2 separate regions of the Homo sapiens genome follow, and region 2 is linked to region 1. Evidence: fine-mapped QTL for protein levels in blood plasma. A gene starts in region 1. The other region holds a variant in brackets. All regions are shown on one strand. Distances are from middle to middle. Region 1 holds the start of WFIKKN1 (WAP, follistatin/kazal, immunoglobulin, kunitz and netrin domain containing 1). Region 2 holds the start of LOC124903618 (a long non-coding RNA gene).

Evidence for each region. PIP is the chance, under the fine-mapping model, that this variant and not a neighbour inherited with it causes the effect. Protein levels are from the aptamer-based SomaScan assay of Sun 2018.
Region 2: its variant is fine-mapped to the plasma level of the WFIKKN1 protein (Sun 2018, PIP 0.95).

The regions. Positions count from the first base shown.
Region 1 is chr16:625,567-635,504 of GRCh38, forward strand. WFIKKN1 (WAP, follistatin/kazal, immunoglobulin, kunitz and netrin domain containing 1) reads left to right here and starts at 5,419. Exons shown (of 2, transcript NM_053284.3): 1 at 5,419-5,858; 2 at 7,016-8,551. The coding sequence starts at 5,688. The coding sequence ends at 8,491. It overlaps RAB40C (RAB40C, member RAS oncogene family), which reads left to right. Exons shown (of 6, transcript NM_021168.5): 5 at 333-555; 6 at 1,776-3,702. The coding sequence ends at 2,056. It overlaps METTL26 (methyltransferase like 26), which reads right to left. Exons shown (of 6, transcript NM_032366.5): 3 at 9,715-9,774; 4 at 9,323-9,390; 5 at 9,153-9,231; 6 at 8,864-9,078. The coding sequence ends at 9,031. RefSeq lists enhancers at 1,841-2,574, 4,044-4,777, 4,303-4,597, 4,778-5,512, 9,679-9,938 and a silencer at 1,961-2,211.
Region 2 is chr16:608,171-623,907 of GRCh38, forward strand. RAB40C (RAB40C, member RAS oncogene family) reads left to right here. Exons shown (of 6, transcript NM_021168.5): 2 at 9,038-9,098; 3 at 10,030-10,090. LOC124903618 (a long non-coding RNA gene) reads right to left here and starts at 8,094. Exons shown (of 2, transcript XR_007064934.1): 1 at 2,684-8,094; 2 at 1-1,520. RefSeq lists enhancers at 3,097-3,226, 13,531-14,284. The variant T/G (reference allele first, on the strand shown) is at 11,538.

The DNA.
Region 1 (9,938 bases):
GCCCCGGGTAGGCTCTGGATTCCCGCCTGCCGCCCCTCCTGTGGCCCCGGCTCTGCACCCTGCACTGTCCCACGGCCTACGCCTGGGCATGCTGGTCACTGTGCACACGACAGTCGGGCGTGGAGCCCAGCAAGACCAGGAGCTACGGGGCCACCCGGAAGGGCTGCACTGTAGGGCCTGAGCCCTGGGGTCTGCCCACCTTGACCTCCGCCCACCTTGACCTCCCACGGCCCTCACCCCATCATAGTCCAGACAATGAGGGCGGGCCCTGCTGCGGCTGAGGGGTGGGTGGCACCCTGCGTTTGTGCGTCTGCTGAGTTCTGTGCCCCCAGCATGCACCCGGAGTCCCCCGGATCTTGGTTGGAAACCGGCTGCACCTGGCCTTCAAGCGGCAGGTCCCGACGGAGCAGGCCCGCGCGTACGCAGAGAAGAACTGCATGACCTTCTTTGAGGTCAGCCCCCTGTGCAACTTCAACGTCATCGAGTCCTTCACGGAGCTATCCCGCATCGTGCTCATGCGGCACGGCATGGAGAAGATCTGGAGGCCCAACCGAGGTGGGTGGGCGGGCGCCGGCCAGCCCTGAGGTCCCCGAACCTGGGCTGCCCTGATCACATGGAGGCTGAGGGGGGCCAGGGGCCAGTGAGGGAGGTTCAGGCAGGTCCCTTGGCAACGCGCAGTAGGGGCTCGGCCGGCGGCAGGTCAGTGACTTGGTAAGAGCAGCCTCGGGGGAGAGGCGGCAGCACTGGGGGGCACAGGAGCAGCTGATGACCCCCCCTCAGGGTGCCGCCGTGGCCGCTGCACTCTGCCATGCCTGTGGGTCCCTGGCATTGCTGGTGTGGGCAGTGTGTGCTCGCTCCTTCCTGGTTCCGGGGCTGGTCCTGCTGTCAGGGGAGCACAGGAGCCGTGCCTGCAGCTTTGTGTTGTGTCATCTGCTCTTCCTGGGTAGCCACATCCTTGATCAGAGGCTCCCGTGAAGCCCCCCTCAGGGAGGTGGTACTGTTGATTTTGTGGTGCCTCCCAGCAGGGTTCACTGCTGAACAGAGAGAGGGTGGCTGACGGTGTCACTGTCCTTCTTAAGAGGAAGCACGGGCCTGGCACGGTGGCTCACTCCTGTAATCCCAGCACTTTGGGAGGCCACAGCAGGTGGATCACCTGAGGTCAGGACTTCGAGACCAGCCTGGCCAACACGGTGAAACCCCGTCTCTACTAAAAATACAAAAATTAACCGGGCGTGGTGACGCACACCTGTAGTCCCAGCTATTCGGGAGGCTGAGGCAGGAGAATCGCTTGAACCCAGGAGGCGGAGGTTGCAGTGAGCGGAGATCGTGCCACGGCACTCCAGCCTGGCGACAGAGCGAGACCCGTCTCAAAAAACAAAACAAAAGAATGAGCGAGTGCTCTAGGGAATGAGTCAGGACGCGCGCTCCCCCGCTCTAGGGGATGAGTCAGGACGCTTGAAGGGCCAGATCACGCAGCCCTCACACTGGGAGCTGCATCATCCAGGCCAGGAACTGGGCAGAGTGCCCTCTGGAAGCCCCGCAGCAGCACCGCCCAGCGTGCCTGGCTTTAGGGAGCAAGGCAGGGGATGGGGTGCCAGTGGACACATCTGTGCTGGGCAGAGAAGTTTGGGCGTCCAGGTCCTCCAGGAGCCCAGCCTGGGAACACCTCTAGGAGTGTGGAGACCCCGCCAGGCTTCTCTTGGGCACCTCAGGTCTCCCTGCACAGGGCCTCCTCCCCCACAGCCCCATGGTCTGACACCCCCTCTGCCCCACAGTGTTCAGCCTGCAGGACCTCTGCTGCCGGGCCATCGTCTCCTGCACCCCCGTGCACCTCATCGACAAGCTTCCACTGCCCGTCACCATCAAGAGCCACCTCAAGTCCTTCTCGATGGCCAACGGCATGAACGCGGTCATGATGCACGGCCGTTCCTACTCCCTGGCCAGCGGGGCCGGGGGCGGCGGCAGCAAGGGCAACAGCCTCAAGAGGTCCAAGTCCATCCGTCCACCCCAGAGCCCCCCCCAGAACTGCTCGCGGAGTAACTGCAAGATCTCCTAGCGGGGATGGGCGGGGCCGCCTGTGCAGATGCCAGGAGGGCTCGAGCTGGACACTCCTGGCTGGACGCCAGGCCAGTGCCGCCTACGTGGAGACTGTCCACACAGCTGCCTCAGAAGCGCCGGGCTTTCCTCACACCTGAGCCGGGTGCGAGGAGGAGCATGCACGGACCAAGCGCGGCAGGCGGGAGGAGGGGGCGCGGCTGGGCTGCTGGTGCTTCCGGGAATCTTGGTCGGAAACAAGCCGGGCCTCCCCAGCTGCCTGGGCTTGACCGGCGGGGAGCCTGGTTGGCCTTTCTTATTTATATAGAGAACACTTCACTTTTTTGTACATTTTTAAGGGGCCTTCAGGGAAGCCTGGGTGTGGCCCGGTGGTGGTGCACTGGTGACTTCATGGCCACGCCAGCTGCGGGGACGCACTTGGGACTCCTCGAGAGGGGACTCGCGGCCGCGATGGCAAGGCATCCTGTGAATTCATGCGCTGCGAGTGGCGGGGCTGCCCAGAGGCCGGGGGAGCAGACAGGGCCGGTGCTCCCTCTGGAAGCTTGGGTGACCGGGGCCCTGGCTCCCACGGGATGGAGGGTGTGGTCCTGTGGTCAGAGCCCAAGCAGCACTCAGGAGAGGGGAGAAAGGAGGTGCACCTGGCAGCCCACATTTTTGTTGCTCCCCAAATCCCTCCCCACGTGGGGATGAGAACCTTCCTGCTGTGATGTGACACCTTCGGGGACATTGACCACTCAAAACTCAGATCATCTCGCCCACCCTGGAGAGTGCAGAGCTATCTGTAGACTTAGGAATACTTGATGGGCAGCGGTGCAGACCCCGGGCACCTGCGTGCAGCCTCCTGTTCTCGGCAGCTTCTGTCGCTGGCCCTGGGGTCCCCACAGCTGCAGCTCTCCTGTGAGGTTGCACGGCATCAGAACCATCCTGACCTTCTTAGGGACGTGCCTGGAACCACCTCGTCCACGTCCACGTCCACCTGGGGGCCTCGGGAGGCTAGGCCCCTCCTCAAAGGCCCACCAGCCCGGCGCTCATGCTGAGCCCCAGGCACGCAGGGCCGGCCACCTCTCTCCTGAAGCCATTGGCCGCTCCTCCACCCAGTGCTTCTGCCCATGCCTGCCCCAGCAGCCCCTCTGCACGGTCACCATCGCCTGGGCCTGCCCACAGCACTGGTGCTCACCTCTACCTCCTGTCCTCAGGCCGTGCGGCACGACATGGCCAGCACGCAGAAGGAGCCCTCCCGGGACCCAGGACCCCCCGTGGTGGACTCCGCGGCACATGCTTCCCAAGGTGGTCCCACGGAGGGTGTTACTGGGCACCAGTGGACTCGCCCCATGGCCCGTTCCTGGGAGATGAGGGCCGTGGCCTGCATGAACTACCAGATGAGTAAGGGAACCCCAGGCAGGCGGCCCTGCCACAGCCCCCAAAGACACTGGCCTCCTGCTCCAGCTTCCCTGTCCTGGCCCCACCTGTCCTGTTGCTGCCAGCAGGGCCCTTGTTTGGGATTATGAACAAACCTCACAGACTTTGAGGACCTGGATGGTCCTGCATTCACGGCATCAACACTACCCGCGCTGCTGTTAGACACTCCGCCATTCCTGGTTCTCTCCGAACCGTTCTTTGTACAGTAAATGTAATTCAGCTGTGGTCCCCACGTTTTGCTGTGTCTGGTGGGGTGGGTCTGGCAGTGGCGGTGCCCCGTGCCAGGGGCCAGTGCTGCTTCATACCCGGCAAACTGACCTCTGGCCTTTGTTTTGCCTGCTGTTCCCTGCGCTGACCGGGCTGACCTGCCGCGGTTGGCTGGGTTCGCCTCAAAGTGAGGGCTGGAGCTGGGCTGGAGCAGCTGGGCCTGGTCACGGCCATTCTCCTCTTCCCGGTGGATGGAATCCCAGCTGGGCTGTGCTGAGCCCTCGCTCACAGTCCCCGGCAGCAGATGGCCTGGGGCGGACTGTCCCCAACAGCAGCAGGACTCCAGAGGGCCAGGTCCTCCAGTCAGTCGGCCCGCTCAGCAGAGCCGCCTGCACGCTGGCCAATCTGGTGTCTGCTATGCCCGGCCCAGGGGGGTGTGGACGCCCCGGAGGTCACAGCTGAGCTGGAACGGGGCACTCCAGTTGGTACAGGGACCAGACCACAGCCTCTGGCTCAGGTGCCTCCCTGTGCTGTTTCGTGGGCATGTCCGGGCCTTAAGCCCCTCCCTGGCAGCTCCAGCCCAGCCGCCTGCTGCTGGGTCTGGCCTAGCTACCCCCACCCCCACGCTATCAGGGCCCACCCCCAGTCTCCTTGTAGAGCAGGGACTGGCGCCTGGAGCCGTCTCCGGGTCTCATTCTGACCAGACCAGGCTCCTGTTACCCTGCCTCCTGGGTCAGAGGTCAGACACAGGGTCAGGGGGACACTCCCATCCGGTCTCAAGAGAACCACTCCCTGAGGCCCCAGACATCTGGAGCCACAGAGGGTTTGGAAGGGTAGATTCCAGGCAGCCTTTTGTCCTGCTGCACCAGGCAGGCCAGCCCCCTGCCCTCCCCAACGAAGAGGAGCCAGCCTGGGGATGTGTGCCCCGCCGACGGGGGGCTGGGGCAGGGCAAGGCTCTGGTGCCCTGGGACACTTGCTCTTTTCAGCTGCAGACGCCCTTGCACTTGGCCTTCCCTCGGGCGGTGCCATCCCACGCGGAGCCACGTCCAGGGCTACACGGTGCGTGGGCCGAGGCTCCGGCATCAGCGTTTCGGGCTGTTCTTATGCTTGTGGTGGCCACAGGCCTCTTCCTGCTGCACCTGCCCCGCCTTGGGGACAGGCCTGAGCCCCAAGCCCGCTGCCTGGTTTCAGGGATGGGGTCTCTGGGAATGCAGTCCTGCCGGGTTGGGCCCCACTCCAACAGGGGCAGCAGAGCAGAGGAGGCCGGGCTGTGCTGGGCGTCCTGCAGACCCCTGTGCCCCTGAAACAGCCATGGAGGGGGGAAGGAACCTCGGAGCGGAGTGAAGCCCTCGGCCGCACGTGACCGTTGCCAGCCTGGACCTGGCCCGGGGGACCCAGGCTGTGGTCAGCCACGCTCTGCGGGGAGGGCCCGTGCCTGCCACCCCCATGGCATAGGAGCCTGGGGTCCAGAGGGCGCCAGGGACAAAAGCTGGGATCTGCTGGCCCTGCCCCCACCCTACTGAGGGTCGTCAAGGAGATTGATCTCAGCCCAGGGGTGGACGAAGGGGTTCAGGTTACAGGGTCCCCTCCCCTCCCCCTCTCCAGCCAGAGCCAGCCCTTCCCCGCCCCGGTGACCCTCATGGCCAGTGGCTCTGTGCTCATGGGCCTCTGGCCCCTCCCCAACCTCCTCCCCTCTGCCCTGTGCTGACCAGGGCCTGGGAGCCCCCGCACGGTTCAGACAGAGGGGCCAGGCTGAAGCTGGAGAGGAACCAGCGTCACACAGACGGCCTCTGAGAACTTGGAGACCCCGTTACCCACCCAGCAGGGGTGTCAGGACAAGCATCTGCTGCAGGCTTCAGCCTCAGGGGCAAAAGGGAGCCCCGGGGTCCTGGTGGGGGCACCGACCACAGGCCCGGAGGGTGGATGCCTGCAGGAAGCTGGGCTCTGTGGAGCCCGAGGAGGGGCTGGTGGCCACACCCCCCGGCCCCCTGGCTCGGCGGCCCTCATGCCCGCCCTACGTCCACTCCTGCCGCTCCTGCTCCTCCTCCGGCTGACCTCGGGGGCTGGCTTGCTGCCAGGGCTGGGGAGCCACCCGGGCGTGTGCCCCAACCAGCTCAGCCCCAACCTGTGGGTGGACGCCCAGAGCACCTGTGAGCGCGAGTGTAGCAGGGACCAGGTGAGTGTGGTCGGGCCGGGGTCCTGGGGCTCAGAGCAGCCAGCCTGGGCAAGACCCTGCTGGAGGTGCCACCTTCTGCCTGGGCTCCCCAGACTTCTGGGGGGTCTGGGTCTGGGCCCCTTAAGGGGCCCAGAGACACCCCCATCGTTGCCCTCATTTGTCTTAAGAATAAGAGCCCTCCCCACTCCAGCTTTCATGCTCCCCATGTGCCTCCACCCTGGGGCACCATCATCCTCGGCGACCACCCCCACCCCGTCACTGCCTCTCCTCCCACCCTCTCCTCCCACCCTCTCCTCCCATCCACTTCTCCCACCCCTTCACTGCCTCTCCTTCCATCCTCTCCTCCCACCCTCTCCTCCCATCCACTCCTCCCATCCACTTCTTCCATCCTCTTCTCCCACCCCGTCACTGCCTCTCCTTCCATCCTCTCCTATCCACTCCTCCCATCCACTTCTTCCATCCTCTTCTCCCACCCCATCACTGCCTCTCCTTCCATCCTCTCCTATCCACTCCTCCCATCCACTTTTTCCATCCTCTTCTCTCACCCCGTCATTGCCTCTCCTTCCATCCTCTCCTCCCATCCACTTCTCCCACCCCTTCACTGCCTCTCCTCCCACCCTCTCCTCCCATCCACTCCTCCCATCCACTCCTCCCATCCACTTCTTCCATCCTCTTCTCCCACCCCGTCACTGCCTCTCCTTCCATCCTCTCCTCCCACCCTCTCCTTCCATCCTCTCCTCCCACCCTCTCCTTCCATCCACTGTCCTCCCTGTCCTCCCACCCTCCTTCCATCCGGGACCAGTGCAGATGGTGGTGGGGGTGCTGCAGCCGATGTCCAGCCTTTGTCCTGGCCCGCACCACCTGCTGGGTGGTCCTGAGCACTGTACGCCCTCCTTGGGCCTCAGTTTCCTCGTCTGTACAACGTAAAGAATAACGGAACTTGCTTGTGGGTGTGAGGATTCTGGAAGGTAAGCCAGGTGGCACCTCTGGCGAGGTGGCTCCTCACACAGGATGGAAAGGACACTGAGTCCCCGGGGAGGCAGCCACAGAGCGGGGGGCTCCCTGCTACCCCACCTGGGCCTCCCCTTGCAGGGGCCAGGCCAGAGCCCCGGGGCGGGGGGCATTGGGGCTCCCACCTAAGTGTCCCCCATCCCCAGGACTGTGCGGCTGCTGAGAAGTGCTGCATCAACGTGTGTGGACTGCACAGCTGCGTGGCAGCACGCTTCCCCGGCAGCCCAGCTGCGCCGACGACAGCGGCCTCCTGCGAGGGCTTTGTGTGCCCACAGCAGGGCTCGGACTGCGACATCTGGGACGGGCAGCCCGTGTGCCGCTGCCGCGACCGCTGTGAGAAGGAGCCCAGCTTCACCTGCGCCTCGGACGGCCTCACCTACTACAACCGCTGCTATATGGACGCCGAGGCCTGCCTGCGGGGCCTGCACCTCCACATCGTGCCCTGCAAGCACGTGCTCAGCTGGCCGCCCAGCAGCCCGGGGCCGCCGGAGACCACTGCCCGCCCCACACCTGGGGCCGCGCCCGTGCCTCCTGCCCTGTACAGCAGCCCCTCCCCACAGGCGGTGCAGGTTGGGGGTACGGCCAGCCTCCACTGCGACGTCAGCGGCCGCCCGCCGCCTGCTGTGACCTGGGAGAAGCAGAGTCACCAGCGAGAGAACCTGATCATGCGCCCTGATCAGATGTATGGCAACGTGGTGGTCACCAGCATCGGGCAGCTGGTGCTCTACAACGCGCGGCCCGAAGACGCCGGCCTGTACACCTGCACCGCGCGCAACGCTGCTGGGCTGCTGCGGGCTGACTTCCCACTCTCTGTGGTCCAGCGAGAGCCGGCCAGGGACGCAGCCCCCAGCATCCCAGCCCCGGCCGAGTGCCTGCCGGATGTGCAGGCCTGCACGGGCCCCACTTCCCCACACCTTGTCCTCTGGCACTACGACCCGCAGCGGGGCGGCTGCATGACCTTCCCGGCCCGTGGCTGTGATGGGGCGGCCCGCGGCTTTGAGACCTACGAGGCATGCCAGCAGGCCTGTGCCCGCGGCCCCGGCGACGCCTGCGTGCTGCCTGCCGTGCAGGGCCCCTGCCGGGGCTGGGAGCCGCGCTGGGCCTACAGCCCGCTGCTGCAGCAGTGCCATCCCTTCGTGTACGGTGGCTGCGAGGGCAACGGCAACAACTTCCACAGCCGCGAGAGCTGCGAGGATGCCTGCCCCGTGCCGCGCACACCGCCCTGCCGCGCCTGCCGCCTCCGGAGCAAGCTGGCGCTGAGCCTGTGCCGCAGCGACTTCGCCATCGTGGGGCGGCTCACGGAGGTGCTGGAGGAGCCCGAGGCCGCCGGCGGCATCGCCCGCGTGGCGCTCGAGGACGTGCTCAAGGATGACAAGATGGGCCTCAAGTTCTTGGGCACCAAGTACCTGGAGGTGACGCTGAGTGGCATGGACTGGGCCTGCCCCTGCCCCAACATGACGGCGGGCGACGGGCCGCTGGTCATCATGGGTGAGGTGCGCGATGGCGTGGCCGTGCTGGACGCCGGCAGCTACGTCCGCGCCGCCAGCGAGAAGCGCGTCAAGAAGATCTTGGAGCTGCTGGAGAAGCAGGCCTGCGAGCTGCTCAACCGCTTCCAGGACTAGCCCCCGCAGGGGCCTGCGCCACCCCGTCCTGGTGAATAAACGCACTCCCTGTGCCTCAGACCTCCTGGCTTGCTGCTGCTGGTCGGGCGACCCTCATCCTTCCAGGTGCCCCATGCCCAGCCAGTTTCCGCTGGGGCCTTGACACCCACTGGGGCTTGGGCTTTGGTACAAGGTCACCAGGGAGTGCCTGTCCGCCCCTGCATCCCCAACCAGCTCCATCCTGCCTCAGCAGCTGTCTCGGCCCCAATCCCACTGCCCGAGCTCCAGCAGCAAGGATCAGGACGTCCCAAGCCCTTGACCCCACAGGAGACCCCGTCTCCCACCCAACCTCACAAGGTGCTCCTAGGAGGAGGTGGGGCAGACACCAGCAAGCCGGCAGCAGGACATGCTTTATTCTGAGCAGGCTGGGCCCTTCGGCCAGCGGCTGAGAGCACAGACTGGGTGGGGCTGTCGTCCACAAGGTCCGGCCTAGGGAGGCAGGGTTCGTGCCTCACAGAGCCTCCGGCAGGGATGCAGGTGTGCGGGGGTGAAGGAGGGGCTTAGTTTTTCCGGAAGATCAGGCATTTGTTGTTGGCTGGCATGTCCACCTGGAGAAACACTTTGCTGGAGGACGGCCCTCAACCCCTAGAGAGGTTGCCTGGGCCCCCGCTCCCCCACCTACCATCCTCTCCAGGAGCAGGCCACTGGCCTTTCCCAGGTCCTCCAGGAGGGCTGTGTCCCGAAGCCCCCATTCTGGGTTCCTGCAGAGGGTGGGGAGATGGAGTCATGGCCTGGGGGGTGCCACCCAAGCCACCTGCCACCTGAGCCAGACCCCCCGCCTCTAGCTCTGACCTGCATCTGAGCATCAGGTCAAAGTCCACGTTGCTCTGGGGGGAGATCTTCCCATTGATGGCATAGGGCTGTGGGCATGGGGACACAGCCCACTGGACCAAGGTCGGGGTATTTCCCAGAGAGCCTGGGACAGACTTGCAGGCTGGGGTTTGGAGAATGAAAGGGCACCCCCTCCCTGTCCCCAAGAGGGAGTCAGCCAAGGCCAGCCTGGTGGGCAAGGGGGTAGGGAGGCTGGCAGATGACCCAGGGAGGGGTACAGACTGGAAGTGGAGGGGAGGCCGTGCTGGTGGCTGGGCGGGGGGCAGGGAGCCCAGGAGGGAGGACTCTCAGCAGGGCAGGAGACAGCAGCTAGGACTGGGAGCGGGAGGCCCGCCGTGGACAGGCCCACTCACCCCGTAGGTGATGAGCAGGGCCCTGGGTTTGAGCAGGTGTCCTGCTGCTCTGAAGAGCCCCTGGTGAGTAGGAACAGGACGGCAGTGAGGTGCTGCCCCCAACAGAAGCCAGGCCCTGAGGCTGGAGACCCTCACCCCGACTGTGATGGGGGAGGCTGGAGACCCTCACCCCGACTGTGATGGGGGAGGCTGGAGACCCTCACCCCGACTGTGATGGGGGAGGC
Region 2 (15,737 bases), 14 kb before region 1:
GGAAGGTACCTCACACAGGGCAGCTCCAGAGAGAATGAGTGCTGAGTGAAGGGGGAAGCCCCTCCTAAAACCATCAGGTGTCGGGAGAACTCACTCACCCGCACAAAAACAGCAGGGGGGAACCACCCCCATGATTTAATTATCTCCATCTGGCCCCGCCCTCAACCTGTGGGGATTAGTCAAGGTGAGATTTGGGCGGGGACACAGCCAAATCTTATCACTCCTGAGCCTGCTTAGCTCCCACCTCGTCCTCTGTCCTTTTTTGATCCTGAAGGGCTAGGTGCTGTGCCAAACCTGGGAGGCCCAGGATGCTGGCTTCAGGCTGCCAATCTGTGGCCCTCAGCGCCATCAGACCCAGGCCCCTTCTAGACAAATGGTTGTGGCATTCCCTTTACCATCCTGAAAAGAATGAAACTCGGCTGGCCATGGTGGCTCACGCCTGTAATCCCAGCACTTTAGGAGGCCGAGGCAGGCAGATCACTTGAGGTCAGGAGTTCAAGACAAGCCTAGCCAACATGGTGAAACCCCATCTCTACAAAAAATGCAAAAAAAATTAGCTGGGCATGGTGGCGGGCACCTGTAGTCCCCACTCCTTGGGAGGCAGAGGCACAAGAATCACTTGAACCCAGAAGGTGGAGGTTGCCATGAGCCAAGATTGTGCTACAATTGTGTGGCGGCTCATACCTGTCATCCCAGCACTTTGGGAGGTCAAGGTGGGCAGATTGCTTGAGCTCAGGAGCTCAAGACCAGCCTGGGCAACACAGCGAGACCCCTGACTGTACAAAAGATACAAAATTAGCCAGGTGTGGTGGTGCACACCTGTAGTCCCAGCTACTCAGGAGGCTGAGCTATGAGGAGCACGTGAGCCTAGGAGTTGGAGGCTGCAGTGAGCCTTGGCCTCACCACTGCACTCCAGCCTGGGTGACAGAACGAGACACCTTCTCAAAAAATAAAAATAAAAACGTGGACTGATAGGTGAGAGAGGTTTGATGGTTTGGGAACAGCGGTGCTGCCACGGCTGGGTGAGGGGCCATGCGATCTGCTTGGAATGCCATGTGAGGGGAAGGGGAGGTCAGGGCAGTGCCTGGTGTGGTTCCCAGCAGGGAGCACAGGAGGTTTATTCTCTGGGAAAATTGAGTCGTGGACAGCAGACACCACTGGGGATGGTGGGGGACAGGGTGGCAGGGGACAGGGTGGCCTGAGCAAGCCCCTCCTTGCCTGGGAACTCAGGGCCTCCTGATATGCAGATGGGAGCCCGTGGCAGGATGATGGCAGGATAACCGTCAGCCCAAAAGAAGCGGCCACGAGACGCCGCCGAGAGCCCCAACTTAGAAGCCAGAGTCACCAGCTTCCTGGCTAGGGTCTGTCCTTGAGGGTCACCAGAATGTGAGGAAAGACCCAGACAGGCAGGAAAAGAGCTCAGGGAAGGACATCTTACCATTGGCGTCATCAGAGATACCGCATCCACGAATGAAGAGCCAGACGCTGCCAGAGGGGAACGCTCAGAGCACCGGAAGGAGCTTTTAGAAATTATAAATAAGCAGCACATTTTAAAAAAGCCATAGAAGGGCTAGAAAAGAAAGTTGAGGACATCTCCCAGAAAATAGAACAAAAAGAGATTAAAAAACAACTGGGCAGTCCCTGCAGAGGTCACCCTGGCTGGCGCGGCTCAGGATGGAGGGCGGGAGCTGTGTGCCTGGAGGGGGGAGCTGAGGCACGTCAGGATGTGTCTCCAGACTGCAAGGGCCACAGAGTACGAAAAAGACCACCCAGAGCAATGTGGTCAAAGACCATGCCTTAAAAGGTTTTAGGAAACAGAATGGGTCCCACGGGAGGGTGGGGATGTGAACGGCACCAGCCTGGTGGCTCGGGTGCCAGGCCAGGGCCAGATGTAGCCTCATACCAGCCCAGCTGGGAGTCCGCTTGCTGAGACTTGGTCTCCTGTAGCTGGTGGGGAAGCGGCACCCTGTGCGGTAGACAGAACCAGCAGCCGAGGCGCCGGTGGCTTTGCTCTGGTGGCAGGACAGGTGTTCTGACCTCCCTGCCTCTGTCCCCTGAGGTCAGAGCGCCTGTCCTGTGGAGCGGCTCTGACCAGGACAGTGCCGTGTGTCTCATGGGGTTGTGTTCAGGTCGGCTGAGAGGCAGCGCCTGGCTGGGGCTAGATGAACAAGAGGGTTATTGGGAACAGTAAACCTGAGGTGGTGAGCAAGGCCTGTGGCACCCAGCAGATGAGGAGGAGAGCAGGGGGAAGGGTGGCAGGAGTTGCTGGTGCTGCGTGAGGCCTCAGTGGGCCTGCACGGAGCAGCTGACCTTCACTGGCGCCCTTGCCTTTTCACTGAGCCGGGTATTAGCTTAGCTTATTTTTGAAAAGACATTTCAACAGGAGGTAAAAATGAACAGCACACCAAGAGAATATGTCACAGCTGATGCCTAGGGACCCCCTTATGGGGTAGTGTTGAGCTCTGCAGCCGGAGCCCACTGCCCCTGCCCCTGCGCCGTCCCCCAGCGCGGGCTCCAGGCCTCTCCTGGGTCACTGCTCTGTGCCTCCAGGAGCTCCTCCCTCTACCCCGCCCTGCCCCACCCCGTCACCTGCTTGCCCTGACCCTGCCTGGATAATTGAGACCTTCCAGGCCAAGGGCCCCCTCCCCAGGATCCTGACACCTGTCCCTCTGAGAGTCCAGACCTTTTCCAGAGTGACATCCTGGGGCCCTGTGTGGTCAGAGGGCTCCATGTGGTCAGTGGCTGTGGCTTGCTGGGAACAAGACACTCGGCTGACTGTGCTTAGAGAACAGGCCGCTGTTTGTGTCTAAATGGTATCCATGGGGACGTTGTTTCATAGTCTTCTTACACTTTTCCTCTTCACTGTTGCTGAGAATCCTGTTCTGACGCGCACCGTGGGCAACCGGGTGCGGAGCCTGCAGGATGGGTGGGACGCAGACGTCCAGCGGGAGGAGCATCCCAGAGCAGCCTCTGATTCAAGAGCAAGGTGCTCTAGAGGCCCCGGCTCTGTGGGTGGGTGACGTGGTCCCCAGGCTTTTCCCGGCATCCCCGTTCCTTTTGCAGCAGCCATGGCTCCTGGTGGCCCTGGGCCATGGCGCCATCTAGGGGTGGCCTAGGGGAGTCCCCGGGCCATCAGCATCTGTCTTGTGGGTGTTGCTGGCGCCTGCCTGCTTGGCCACATTGGCACGTCGAGGTGACCGTCAAGGAGAAGCAGCTATGGCCTTTGTGGCAATCGTGGTGTCCAACTTTGGCCTCTCAGGTCAGCCTCATGGGGGCTTCAACAGCCAGGACCAAAATGACCAAGGCCCCTCCGTCCCTGTGTCCCTGCTTGACAGAACCACCGGAGGAGGGAGGTGCGGGAAGGGTGTTGACGGCCTGAGCGCGGTGCCTCCCTGAAGAGTGTTGTTTCACTTGTGAGTGTGCACGGGACAGCCGCCCTGGCCTGTAGAATCAAGAGCAGGGACAGCCGCCCTGGCCTGTAGAATCAAGAGCAGAGACAGCCGCCCTGGCCTGTAGAATCAAGAGCAGGGACAGCCGCCCTGGCCTGTAGAATCAAGAGCAGGGACAGCCGCCCTGGCCTGTAGATTCAAGAGCAGGGACAGCCGCCCTGGCCTGTAGAATCAAGAGCAAGGGACAGCCGCCTTCGCCTGTAGAATCAAGAGCAGGGACAGCCGCCCTGGCCTGTAGAATCAAGAGCACGGGACAGCCGCCCTGGCCTGTAGAATCAAGAGCACGGGACAGCCGCCCTGGCCTGTAGAATCAAGAGCAGGGACAGCCGCCCTGGCCTGTAGAATCAAGAGCAAGGGACAGCCGCCCTGGCCTGTAGAATCAAGAGCAAGGGACAGCCGCCTTTGCCTGTAGAATCAAGAGCAGGGACAGCCGCCCTGGCCTGTAGCATCAAGAGCAAGGGACAGCCGCCCTGGCCTGTAGAATCAAGAGCAGGGACAGCCGCCCTGGCCTGTAGAATCAAGAGCAGGGACAGCCGCCCTGGCCTGTAGAATCAAGAGCAGGGACAGCCGCCCTGGCCTGTAGAATCAAGAGCAGGGACAGCCGCCCTGGCCTGTAGAATCAAGAGCAGGGACAGCCGCCCTGGCCTGTAGAATCAAGAGCAGGGACAGCCGCCCTGGCCTGTAGAATCAAGAGCAGGGACAGCCGCCCTGGCCTGTAGAATCAAGAGCAGGGACAGCCGCCCTGGCCTGTAGATTCAAGAGCAGGGACAGCCGCCCTGGCCTGTAGAATCAAGAGCAAGGGACAGCCGCCTTCGCCTGTAGAATCAAGAGCAGGGACAGCCGCCCTGGCCTGTAGAATCAAGAGCACGGGACAGCCGCCCTGGCCTGTAGAATCAAGAGCACGGGACAGCCGCCCTGGCCTGTAGAATCAAGAGCACGGGACAGCCGCCCTGGCCTGTAGAATCAAGAGCAGGGACAGCCGCCCTGGCCTGTAGAATCAAGAGCAAGGGACAGCCGCCTTTGCCTGTAGAATCAAGAGCAGGGACAGCTGCCCTGGCCTGTAGCATCAAGAGCAAGGGACAGCCGCCCTGGCCTGTAGAATCAAGAGCAGGGACAGCCGCCCTGGCCTGTAGAATCAAGAGCAGGGACAGCCGCCCTGGCCTGTAGAATCAAGAGCAGGGACAGCCGCCCTGGCCTGTAGAATCAAGAGCAAGGGACAGCCGCCTTCGCCTGTAGAATCAAGAGCAGGGACAGCCGCCCTGGCCTGTAGAATCAAGAGCACGGGACAGCCGCCCTGGCCTGTAGAATCAAGAGCACGGGACAGCCGCCCTGGCCTGTAGAATCAAGAGCAGGGACAGCCGCCCTGGCCTGTAGAATCAAGAGCAAGGGACAGCCGCCTTTGCCTGTAGAATCAAGAGCAGGGACAGCCGCCCTGGCCTGTAGCATCAAGAGCAAGGGACAGCCGCCCTGGCCTGTAGAATCAAGAGCAAGGGACAGCCGCCCTGGCCTGTAGAATCAAGAGCAGGGACAGCCGCCCTGGCCTGTAGAATCAAGAGCAGGGACAGCCGCCCTCACCTGTAGAATCAGCAGGGACAGCCGCCCTGGCCTGTAGCATCAAGAGCAGGGACAGCCGCCCTGGCCTGTAGCATCAAGAGCAGGGACAGCTGCCCTTGCTTGTAGAATCAAGAGCAGGGACAGCCGCCCTCGCCTGTAGAATCAAGAGCAGGGGACAGCTGCCCTCGTCTTTAGATTGAAGAGCAGGGACTGCCGCCCTCGCCTGTAGAATCAAGAGCAGGACTGCCGCCCTGGCCGGTAGAATCAAGAGCACAGTGCAGCAGCACGCAGCACACTCAGCGGATGGAGGGCCTGGCTTCTGCACGCCGGCTGGCACTTGCTGCCAGTTGCCCTTTTCTGCGAGGCTGGATCGTGGTGCGGTGGTGGCTTGGATGGGTTTCTCTGCTGAACGATGATGTGGAATGCCTTTTCACTGCTTCTTGGTCGTCGGTTTTTCTTCTTTGGGGAAATGTCTATTCAAGTCCTTTGCCCTTTTTTTAAAGTATAATTTCCGTATTTTTTTCCCCAGAGGATAGTTTGTCTTTAGTCCTTAAGGACTCAGCTCCTTATGTGGGTCTTAGTGGGAGTCGTGGGCAACACCCAGGTCTAGACCCAGGTGGAATGCATGGTCTTGGGGCCTTGGTGGGGGTCGTGGGCAGCACCCAGGTCTAGACTTGGGTGACGTGCATAGCCCTGGACTTGAGGAGCAGGATTCCTGACTGGCTTGCTGTGAAGGGCACCACTGGGGCAGTGACGCAGCTTCACACGCAGCTCGGGAAGCACACAGTCGGCGCAGATGCTTCCAAAATGTCTGCAAGGCTGCGGCCTCTACTGCATCCAGATGGTGAACTGCCTAACTCTACCGCGTCCCGATGGTGAACTGCTAACTCTGCCGTATCCCGATGGTGAACTGCCGAACTCTACCGCATCCCGATGGTGAACTGCCAAACTCTACCGCATCCCGATGGTGAACTGCTAACTACCGCATCCCGATGGTGAACTGCCGAACTCTACCGCATCCCTATGGTGAACTGCTAACTCTGCCGCATCCCGATGGTGAACTGCCTAACTCTACCTCGTCCCGATGGTGAACTGCCTAACTCTACCACATCCCGATGGTGAACTGCTAACTCTGCCACATCCCGATGGTGAACTGCTAACTCTGCCGCATCCCGATGGTGAACTGCCAAACTTTACCTCGTCCCGATGGTGAACTGCCTAAACCTCGTCCCGATGGTGAACTGCCTAACTCTACCGCATCCCGATGGTGAACTGCCTAACTCTACCACATCCCGATGGTGAACTGCTAACTCTGCCGCATCCCGATGGTGAACTGCCAAACTTTACCTCGTCCCGATGGTGAACTGCCTAAACCTCGTCCCGATGGTGAACTGCCTAACTCTACCGCATCCCGATGGTGAACTGCCTAACTCTACCACATCCCGATGGTGAACTGCTAACTCTGCCGTATCCCGATGGTGAACTGCCAAACTTTACCTCGTCCCGATGGTGAACTGCCTAACTCTACCTCGTCCCAATGGTGAACTGCCTAACTCTACCACATCCTGATGGTGAACTGCTAACTCTGCCGCATCCCGACGGTGAACTGCCAAACTCTACCTCGTCCCGACGGTGAACTGCCAAACTCTACCTCGTCCCAGTGGTGAACTGCTAACTCAGCCGCATCCCGATGGTGAACTGCCAAACTTTACCTCGTCCCGATAGTGAACTGCCTAACTCTACCGCATCCTGATGAACTGCTTAATGGCGTTGTCCCTGGGTACACATTGGGTGCAGCTCCTGCAGTCATGGGCTGCTCACAGCCGTGGCCCTTTTGGCACAACCATTGTTCCTTCTTGTCTTGGAAACGAGGACCCGAGGGAGACCATCCGTCCATCCTAAAATTGGGACGTTTGGTTTTCTGTTGTTGAGTTGGAGTTATTTGTAGAGTCTAGAGATCAGTCTCTAGGAGACGTGTGATCTGCAGACATTTCCCTCCATCTCTGGGTTGCATTTTTCTGTCCATTGATGGTGTCCTTCGATGCATGAGAACAGCCTTTGATGTACATGTAGGGGTTGGTCAGGCAGAAGGACGGTGTGGGTGGAAGCGCTGATGCCTGAAGAAGGGCACCGTAGGCAGAGAGACCGCATGGCTGGCTTGCAGGGCTGGGCCCGCACGGAGAGACAGATGTGCACAGACACACACACAAGCCCACTGGGCAGGTGCACTCCGTGGGAGGGCGTCGCTTATGTTTAAAAAGTGCCCGTTTCCAAGCCCCTTGGAGAAAGTGTCATAAAAAGACAAAACGTGAATGGTGTTTCTAAGGTGGGGGAAGGGGCTGAGCCCTAAAGGTAGAAGCTTCTGGAAAGTTTCCAGAGGGCCCAGAGCCTGTTTAAGATGTCGTGCCTGCGTTAAGTGTCCAGAACTGTCTGCTCCTTTCAGTTTCTCTTGGACTGACCTTTTCCTATAAAACTGTAAGGAAATAAAAAGTAATGATGTGATGTGGGCCGGGCACGGTGGCTCACACCTGTAATCCCAGCACTTTGGGAGGCCAAGGCGGGCGAATCACCTGAGGTCAGGAATTTGTGACCAGCTTAGCCAACGTGGCAAAACCCCGTCTCTACTAAAATTATAAAAATTAGCCGGCTGTGGTGGTGGGCACCTGTAATCCCAGCTACTTGGGAGGCTGAGGCAGGAGAATCGCTTGAACCCGGGAGGTGGAGGTTGTAGTGACCCGAGATTGTGGCACTGCACTGCAGCCTGGGCGACAGAGTGAGACTCCATCTCAAAAAAGAAAAAAAGGCCGGGTGCAGTGGCTCACGCCTGTAATCCTAGCACTTTGGGAGGCTGAGGCGGGTGGATCATGAGGTCAGGAGATCGAGACCATCCTGGCTAACACGGTGAAACCCCACCTCTACTAAAAATACAAAAAATTATCCGGGCATGGTGGCGGGCGCCTGTAGTTCAGCTACTCAGCAGGCTGAGGCTAGATAATGGCGTGAACCCGGGAGACGGAGCTTGCAGTGAGCAGAGATCGCACCACTGCACTCCAGCCTGGGTGACTGAGCAAGACTCTGTCTCAAAAAAAAAAAAAAATACCAATGTGGCAGGCAGGCTGGTGGCTGTCTGAGGTCAGTCCAGAGTCCGGAGAAGCAGCATTTTATTTATTTATTTATTTATTTATTTATTTATTGAGTACTGTCACCCAGGCAGGAGTGCAGTGACATGATCTCGGCTCACTGCAACCTCCACCTCCCAGCTTCAAGTGATTCTCCTGCCTCAGCCTCCCGAGTAGCTGGGATTAAAGGTGCCCACCACCACACCTGGCTAATTTTTTGTATTTTTAGTAGAGACGGGGTTTCACTGTGTTGGTCAGGCTGCTCTCAAACTCCCGACCTCATGATCCGCCCGCCTCGGCCTCCCAAAGTGCTGGGATTACAGGCGTGAGCCACCGCGCCCGGCCAGAAGCAGCATTTTTAAACTTGTTTGGCCCTCCCTAACACCAACCTTGGCAGTTCCTGGGCTGCAGTAAGCCGAGACTTGGAAATACATTCGCCTTGGAGAATTCAACTTCAAAATGCATACGAAGTAGGTCAGGGTGGAAATAAAGGCACTGCCCTTTCTCCAGGCACGCTGGAGTCCACGCCCTGCCTTTGCCCAATGCCCTCTGAGGGAGAGGCCCTGTGCCTTGCACCCAGCGCGGGCCACAGGCGGAGGCCCCATTCCAGGCAAGCCGTGCCCATGGAGAGGCTGGCCTGCTAGGCTGTGGGGCCCGATGGCCTGACACTGTATGGACCACGCTCCTGCCCTGCCCTGCCCCGCCCTGCCCGTGGCCCGTGTGCAGAAGTGGGCAGGCCTGGGTTGCTGGGCCAGAGCCCCGAGATTTCCCCCTGCCCCACTGGCTGAGTGTGGGGGAGCTGCTTCTCCACTTCCGCGTGGGTCTTGGCCCTGGGAGGCCAGTGGCCGAGGCTGGTCTCGCGGGCGCTCGCTCCAGGAGTGGCGCGTCCCCTCAGCGCCCTGTGCTTCCTCGCAGGGATCGACTACAAGACCACCACCATCCTGCTGGACGGCCGGCGCGTGAAGCTGGAGCTCTGGTGAGTTGGGGCTGCGGCACTTCAGTTCCTGGGTGAGGACACAAATGCCGAAGGGAGAACAGAACCCTTAGAGAAACAGGAAGGCGTCCTGTTTGCATTTCACTTGGAAGAGCCACTTACACAGCCCCTGTTTAAACATAGAATGGATTTTACTCCAACAGGAAAAAGACAGTCTGGGACACTGTGTCCCTAGAGATCGCGGCTCCCCTCCTGCCCCGGAAAACCTGATTCCGTGGTGGCTGTGAGCCCCTTCCCTCCCCTTCTGTCGGCTTCACCTTAAAAAGCATTTCCCAGCGGGGTGTGGTGGCTCACGCCTGTCATCCCAGCACTTTGGGAGGCCGAGGCAGGAGGATCACCTGAGGTCAGGAGTCCAAGACAAGCCTGGCCAACATGGTGAAACGCCATCTCTACTAAAAATACAAAAATTAGCCAGGTGTGGTGGCGGGCGCCTGTAGTCCCAGCCACTCAGGAGGCTGAGGCAGTAGAATCACTTGAACCCGGGAGGCAGAAGTTGCAGTGAGCTGAGATTGCACCACTGCACTCCAGCCTGGGTGACAGAATGAGACTCCGTCTCAAAAAAGAAAAAAAAAAAAGCATTTCCCAGAACGTCAGCGTTGATGAGACGTGAATGTCCACAGGGTTGGGGTTCCCCAGCCTGGCAGGACAGTCTCCTGGAGCTCCCAGGCTCATGTGAGGAGCTTGCTCACTCCCCAGGTGGGCGGGGGCCCCTTCTGCTGCCTGCCTGGCTCAGCGGCACGGCGCCAGGCTGCTGTGACCTGTGCAGACAAAGCCGCTTAGCACAGCCTCATTGGCACCTGTCCTGGCCGCCCCGCTCCCCTCAGGACATCCAGGTGGGTCGGCAGAGGAGGGAAGGAGGTGAGCCTCTCACAGGGACCACAGTCCCGGCCCCTCCCCTCCCCGTATGTTTCAGGGACACGTCGGGCCAGGGCCGGTTCTGCACCATCTTCAGGTCCTACTCCAGGGGCGCTCAGGTAAGACCAGCACCGCTCTTTCCATTGCTTTTCAAAGGATGTTTCTCCTGATTCTTTCTGAATGTGAGTTGTTGTCCTGTCAAACTCCCAAGGACTTTCTTTCTTTATAAGGATATTCTCACATTGGTTTGTTTATTTGTTTGTTTTGAGACAGAGACTCACTCTGTCACCCAGGCTGGAGTACAGTGGCACAGTCTCGGCTCACTGCAGCCTCCCCCTCCCGGGTTCAAGCGATTCTCCTGCCTCAGCCTCCCCAGTAGCTGGGAGTACAGGCGCAGTGGGTGTACTTGGAGCTGTGTGTGTGCACAGGTGTAGTGGGTGCACTCAGGGCCATGTGTGTGTGCAGCCATGTGCACAGGTCTGGCGGGGGCACTGGGGCCATGTGTGCAGTGTGTGCGCAGGTGTGGTGTACTTGGAGCTGTGTGTGTGCACAGGTGTAGTGGGTGCACTCAGGGCCATGTGTGTGCAGGCATGTGCACAGGTCTGGCGGACGCACTGGGGCCATGTGTGCAGTGTGTGCAGGTGTGGTGTACTTGGAGCTGTGTGTGTGCACAGGTGTAGTGGGTGCACTCGGCCATGTGTATGTGCAGGCATGTGCACAGGTCTGGCGGGGGCACTGGGGCCATGTGTGCAGTGTGTGCTCAGGTGTGTACTTGGAGCTGTGTGTGTGCACAGGTGTAGTGGGTGCACTCAGGGCCATGTGTGTGCAGGCATTTGCACAGGTCTGGCGGACGCACTGGGGCCATGTGTGCAGTGTGTGCAGGTGTGGTGTACTTGGAGCTGTGTGTGTGCACAGGTGTAGTGGGTGCACTCGGCCATGTGTGTGTGCAGGCATGTGCACAGGTCTGGCGGGGGCACTGGGGCCATGTGTGCAGTGTGTGCTCAGGTGTGGTGTACTTGGAGCTGTGTGTGTGCACAGGTGTAGTGGGTGCACTCAGGGCCATGTGTGTGTGCAGGCATGTGCACAGGTCTGGCGGGGGCACTGGGGCCATGTGTGCAGTGTGTGTGCAGGTGTGGTGTACTTGGAGCTGTGTGTGTGCACAGGTGTAGTGGGTGCACTCAGGGCCATGTGTGTGTGCAGCCATGTGCACAGGTCTGGCGGGGGCACTGGGGCCATGTGTGCAGTGTGTGTGCAGGTATGGTGGGTGCGCTTGGCCACCCTCGTTTCTGTCTCCTCTGGGCCCCCAAGCACGCTTTTGTGCTGACTGGATCTGCTGGCGAATGTGAGGCCGGAAGGAGGGCAAGGACGTGAAGCCCATGTAAACAGACCTGTCATGGCCACTGTTGTTGCTGCTTCAGTGGGAGGGATTTGAGCGGGTCTGTCCTGTCTGTGATGCCCCTAAGAGTTCTGGAAGAGCCAGGAGAGCCCCTCCGGGGCCAGTTCGTGAGCCTGGAGCCCCCCATGTGGGCCCAGGGAGGCCGCCTGGGTCTGGGTCTGGATCCTTCT[T/G]GGGGGAAGGTTCAGGTCTGTGCCATGCAGCTTCTGGCTCAGGTGGGTCCGCTCTGGGCAGGAAGCTGCCCAGGTGCGAGGGGGATGGACACTGGAGCTTCGTCCCATGGCAAGCTCATTTCCTTCCATTTCTACACTGAAGTGTAGTCGGTGTTGGATCTGATGTCTTCTACCTGCTGGCGGTGGGTGGGAAGGACGCCAGGGCGGGCTGGGTCGCACCCTGTCCTGGGAGTTCCCTCGGAGATGTTGGCAGCTCCCTCATGGGAGCAGAAGGGCCTGCAGGCTCCGTGCCATCCCTGTGAGAACTGGAGCAACATGGCCGTGATTCGTGGAGCAGGCAGGTGGAAGACGGGCAGGCTCAAGGATGCATTCCATGGGCCCTGCCTGCTATTGAAAGAGGAGTTGGGGCTGGTGCGGTGGTTCACGCCTGTAATCCCAGCACTTTGGGAGGCCAAGGCAGACAGATCACGAGGTCAAGAGTTGGAGACCAACCTGACCAACATGGTGAAACCCCATCTCTACGAAAAATACAAAAATTAGCCGAGCATGGTGGCGGGCGCTTATAATCCCAGCTACTTAGGAGGCTGAGGCAGGAGAATCGCTTGAACCCAGGAGGTGGAGGTTGCAGTGAGCCGAGATTGTGCCATTGCACGCCAACCTGGGCGACGAGTGAAACTCCATCTCAAAAAAAAAGGAGGAGCTGTGTGGGTGATTTACATCTACAAAAATGCCTTCTTGTCTTCCTTTTGCTTTTAAGTATTTCGTGATTTTTCTGCAATAAACATATACTATTTTGGTATTAAAAAATATGGGGCGCAGTTATGTTGGATGACAATAAAGGGTTGTTGGGGAGATACTGGAAAAGGCAGCAGGGAGGCTGAACCTGACAGGCTCCACTGCGGGCATCCCAGCCCCCCCCGACGGGCTCCACCGCGGGCATCCCAGCCCCCCCCCGACGGGCTCCACCGCGGGCATCCCAGCCCCCCCCGATGGGCTCCACCGCGGGCATCCCAGCCCCCCGCCGACGGGCTCCACCGCGGGCATCCCAGCCCCCCGCCGACGGGCTCCACCGCGGGCATCCCAGCCCCCCGCCGACGGGCTCCACCGCGGGCATCCCAGCCACCCCCCCCGACGGGCTCCACCGCAGGCATCCCAGCTCCCACACAGGGAGGTCTGTGGGACACGAGGCCAGTACAGTCGTGATTTCTGTTCAGCTGCATGAGAACTAAAAAAGAAAAAAGCAGTTCATAAGCTCTGCATTTGCCAGGCTGAGGTCCTGGAAAGCAAGCTCTGTTATCATCTCCGTGTTCTTTCCAAAGCATCTGGCACAACTGGTTATGTCTTTGTTTTGTCTTGTTAACTCTGGAAATTCTGAGCTGTCATTTTCCACATGCGAGGAGCAGGTTACAGACCCAGGTGCACATGTTGGTCCTGGGTTGAGGGTGCCAGGTGCTTCCTTGCCCCGGGAGAAGCACCTGAGTCTCCAGGCGGGCCTCTGACCGCCGTGACTGAGCATTTGGGCCACCCCGGGAGCCCAGCCCTGTCCTGTGTCTCTCCTGCCTGGTGAGCAGCGGTGAGGTGCGGGTGCATCCAGCCGAGGTGCAGAGCCCAGGTTTGCAGCAGGGTTTCTCCCGCCGCCCCTGATGAGACACAGACTAGCAAGGACTGTCTGTCCCAGCCGGGATTTGTCACTCTGCCTCCCTCCGTTAGAGAGTGGAGAGGCCTGGAAGGTCCCCGCGGCCTGGGTCTTGCAGATGGCACCAGCAAAGGCCACCGGCCACTCCCCGCTGCCGTCACCTGTCACACAGCAGCAGTCCCGCGGCTCTTCCCGCGAGGCCCTTCACGTGCCGCCGAAGGCCGGGCTCCCTAGACTTCATGGTCGTGTTTGCATATTCTGTTGCTGTGATCTGAGACGGCCCCTCTCAGAAGCGGGTGCCACAACCCGCTGGTGGGATGAGTGGGTCACCCAGGTGCAGGTCCCTTGGTGTGTGGAGGGTGGGGTAGGCTCCTTGTAACTGCAGTGTGGCTGACGGGATGTGCCATCCTGTTTAGCTGAGAATTTGGGGTCAGCGGGCTTAGTGCCAGGAAGGCTGTGGCCAAGTGCCATGTCTGCTTCAGGACAAAGGTGTGGATTTGTTTCCCTGAGAGGGGGTTTATGTGGAGCGTGGTACGGGAGGCACACGTGCTGCTGGCTTGTCGGCACACAGGTGGGCGGGTGGATGTGAGTGGGCGCGGCTTGGCAGTAGCTCCCATTTTACATGTCAGTTGCTCCTGGGCAGAGCCTGGGTGCAGGGATGCAGGAGGAGGGCTTCACTCTCGCTGGCTGTACCTTGGGAGCTTCAGCCACATGGGTGGAAGGGGCATGTGTTTGTCAAAATTCATCAAAATGTTCAAACCTCGGATCTTTGTATTTTGTGCTTTGTAAGTTACAGCTCAGTAAAAAATGATAGCAAAAAGGACACCCACTCTTAGGCCCAGCAGTTCTACTTCTGGGAATTTATCGTGTAGGTCGAGTTGATCAAAAAAAGGTGTAAACGTGCTCAGATGCATATTGCCACCGTTACCCAAGAGCTGGCGCAGTACCAGTTCACGAGCAGGCGGGGGTGCTGGGCCTGAGCTCAGGGCGTGCGGGTGGGAGCAGCGCCAAGTGCCTCCACCCCCTTGACCCCGCCCGCGAGGCATGAGCGGCACCGTGGACACGTCTGTAGACGCTGAGGAAACTGACTGTCAGGGCGGCTCCTAGAGGGGCCTAGAGCAGGGCGAGCGCGCGTCCTGACTCATCCCCTAGAGCACTCGCTCGTTCTTTTGTTTTGTTTTTTGAGACACGGTCTGGCTCTGTCGCCAGGCTGGAGTGCCGTGGCGCGATCTCGGCTCACTGCAACCTCCGCCTCCCGGGTTCACGCCATTCTCCTGCCTCAGGCTCCCGAGTAGCTAGAACTAGGTGTGCACCACCGCGTCCAGCTAATTTTTGTATTTTTAGTAGAGACGGGGTTTCACCATGTTGGCCAGGATGGTCTCCATCTCTTGACCTCGTGATCCGCCTGCCTCGGCCTCCCAAAGTGCTGGGATCGCAGGCGTGAGCCACGGCGCCTGGCCGAAGTCGCTAGTTTTTTAAAAATCAGATCAGTTTTAGAAAACAGAAGGCAGTGGAAGAGTCTGTTTGTCCCGTGCTCTGCCCCTTGAGACACGCAGCTGAGGGTGCTTAGGGTGCCGTTCGTTAGGCGGCTGCTGGTCACCGAGAGTCTCCTTTTGGTTTCTCACTCCGTGGTCATTTGGGTCCCTGCGGCCTCACTGTGACCCACGCCGGAGCAAGCCTCCGGGTCCTCCTGTGCCATCGCCCCTGCCCGTAACCCCTACTCCTCAGACATGGCCATCCCAGGAAGTGGGGGCCCGCTCAGGGCAGCAGCCGGGAGGTGTGGCCAGGGCCCCCCGCGTCACAGCACACTTGGAGCCTGAGGCAGCCCATCAGCCGGGAGGCGGGCCTTCTGCTCTCTTTCTAGAGTTTTCAGTGTCATGCGAATAGGGGTGTTTGCCACAGAAAACAGGTCAGCATCAAAAGTTACCCCTCTCCAGCCTTTTAGCATTTGTTTTATGTCCATATAAACTTCTTCAGTGTAATGTGTTGTGTGTTCATACTTTTATTTTTTAAAAATCATGCTGGGCCGGGCGCGGTGGCTCACGCCTGTCATCCCAGCACTTTGGGAGGCCGAGGTGGGCAGATCGGGAGGTCAGGAGATCAAGACCATCCTGGCTAACACGGTGAAACCCTGTCTCTACTAAAAAAAAATACAAAAAAATTAGCCGGGCATGGTGGCGGGCGCCTGTAGTCCCAGCTACTCAGGAGACTGAGGCAGGAGAATGGCGTGAACCCGGAAGCGGAGATCGTGCGGCTGCACTCCAGCCTGGGCGACAGAGTGAGACTCCGTCTCAAAAAAAAAAAAAAAAGAAATCATGCTGGGCTGGGCACAGTGGCTCACACCTCTGATCCCAGCACTTTAGGAAGTTGAGGCAGGAGGATCACTTGAGGCCAGGGGTTCAAGACCAGCCTGGGCAACATAGCAAGATCCCATCTCTAAAAAATGTTTAAAAAAACTTAGCCAGATGTGGTGGTTCACACCTGTATTCCCAGCCACTCAGGAAGCTGAGGCTCAGAATATCAGGCTGCAGTGAGCCATGATCGTGCCACTGCATGAACCCCAG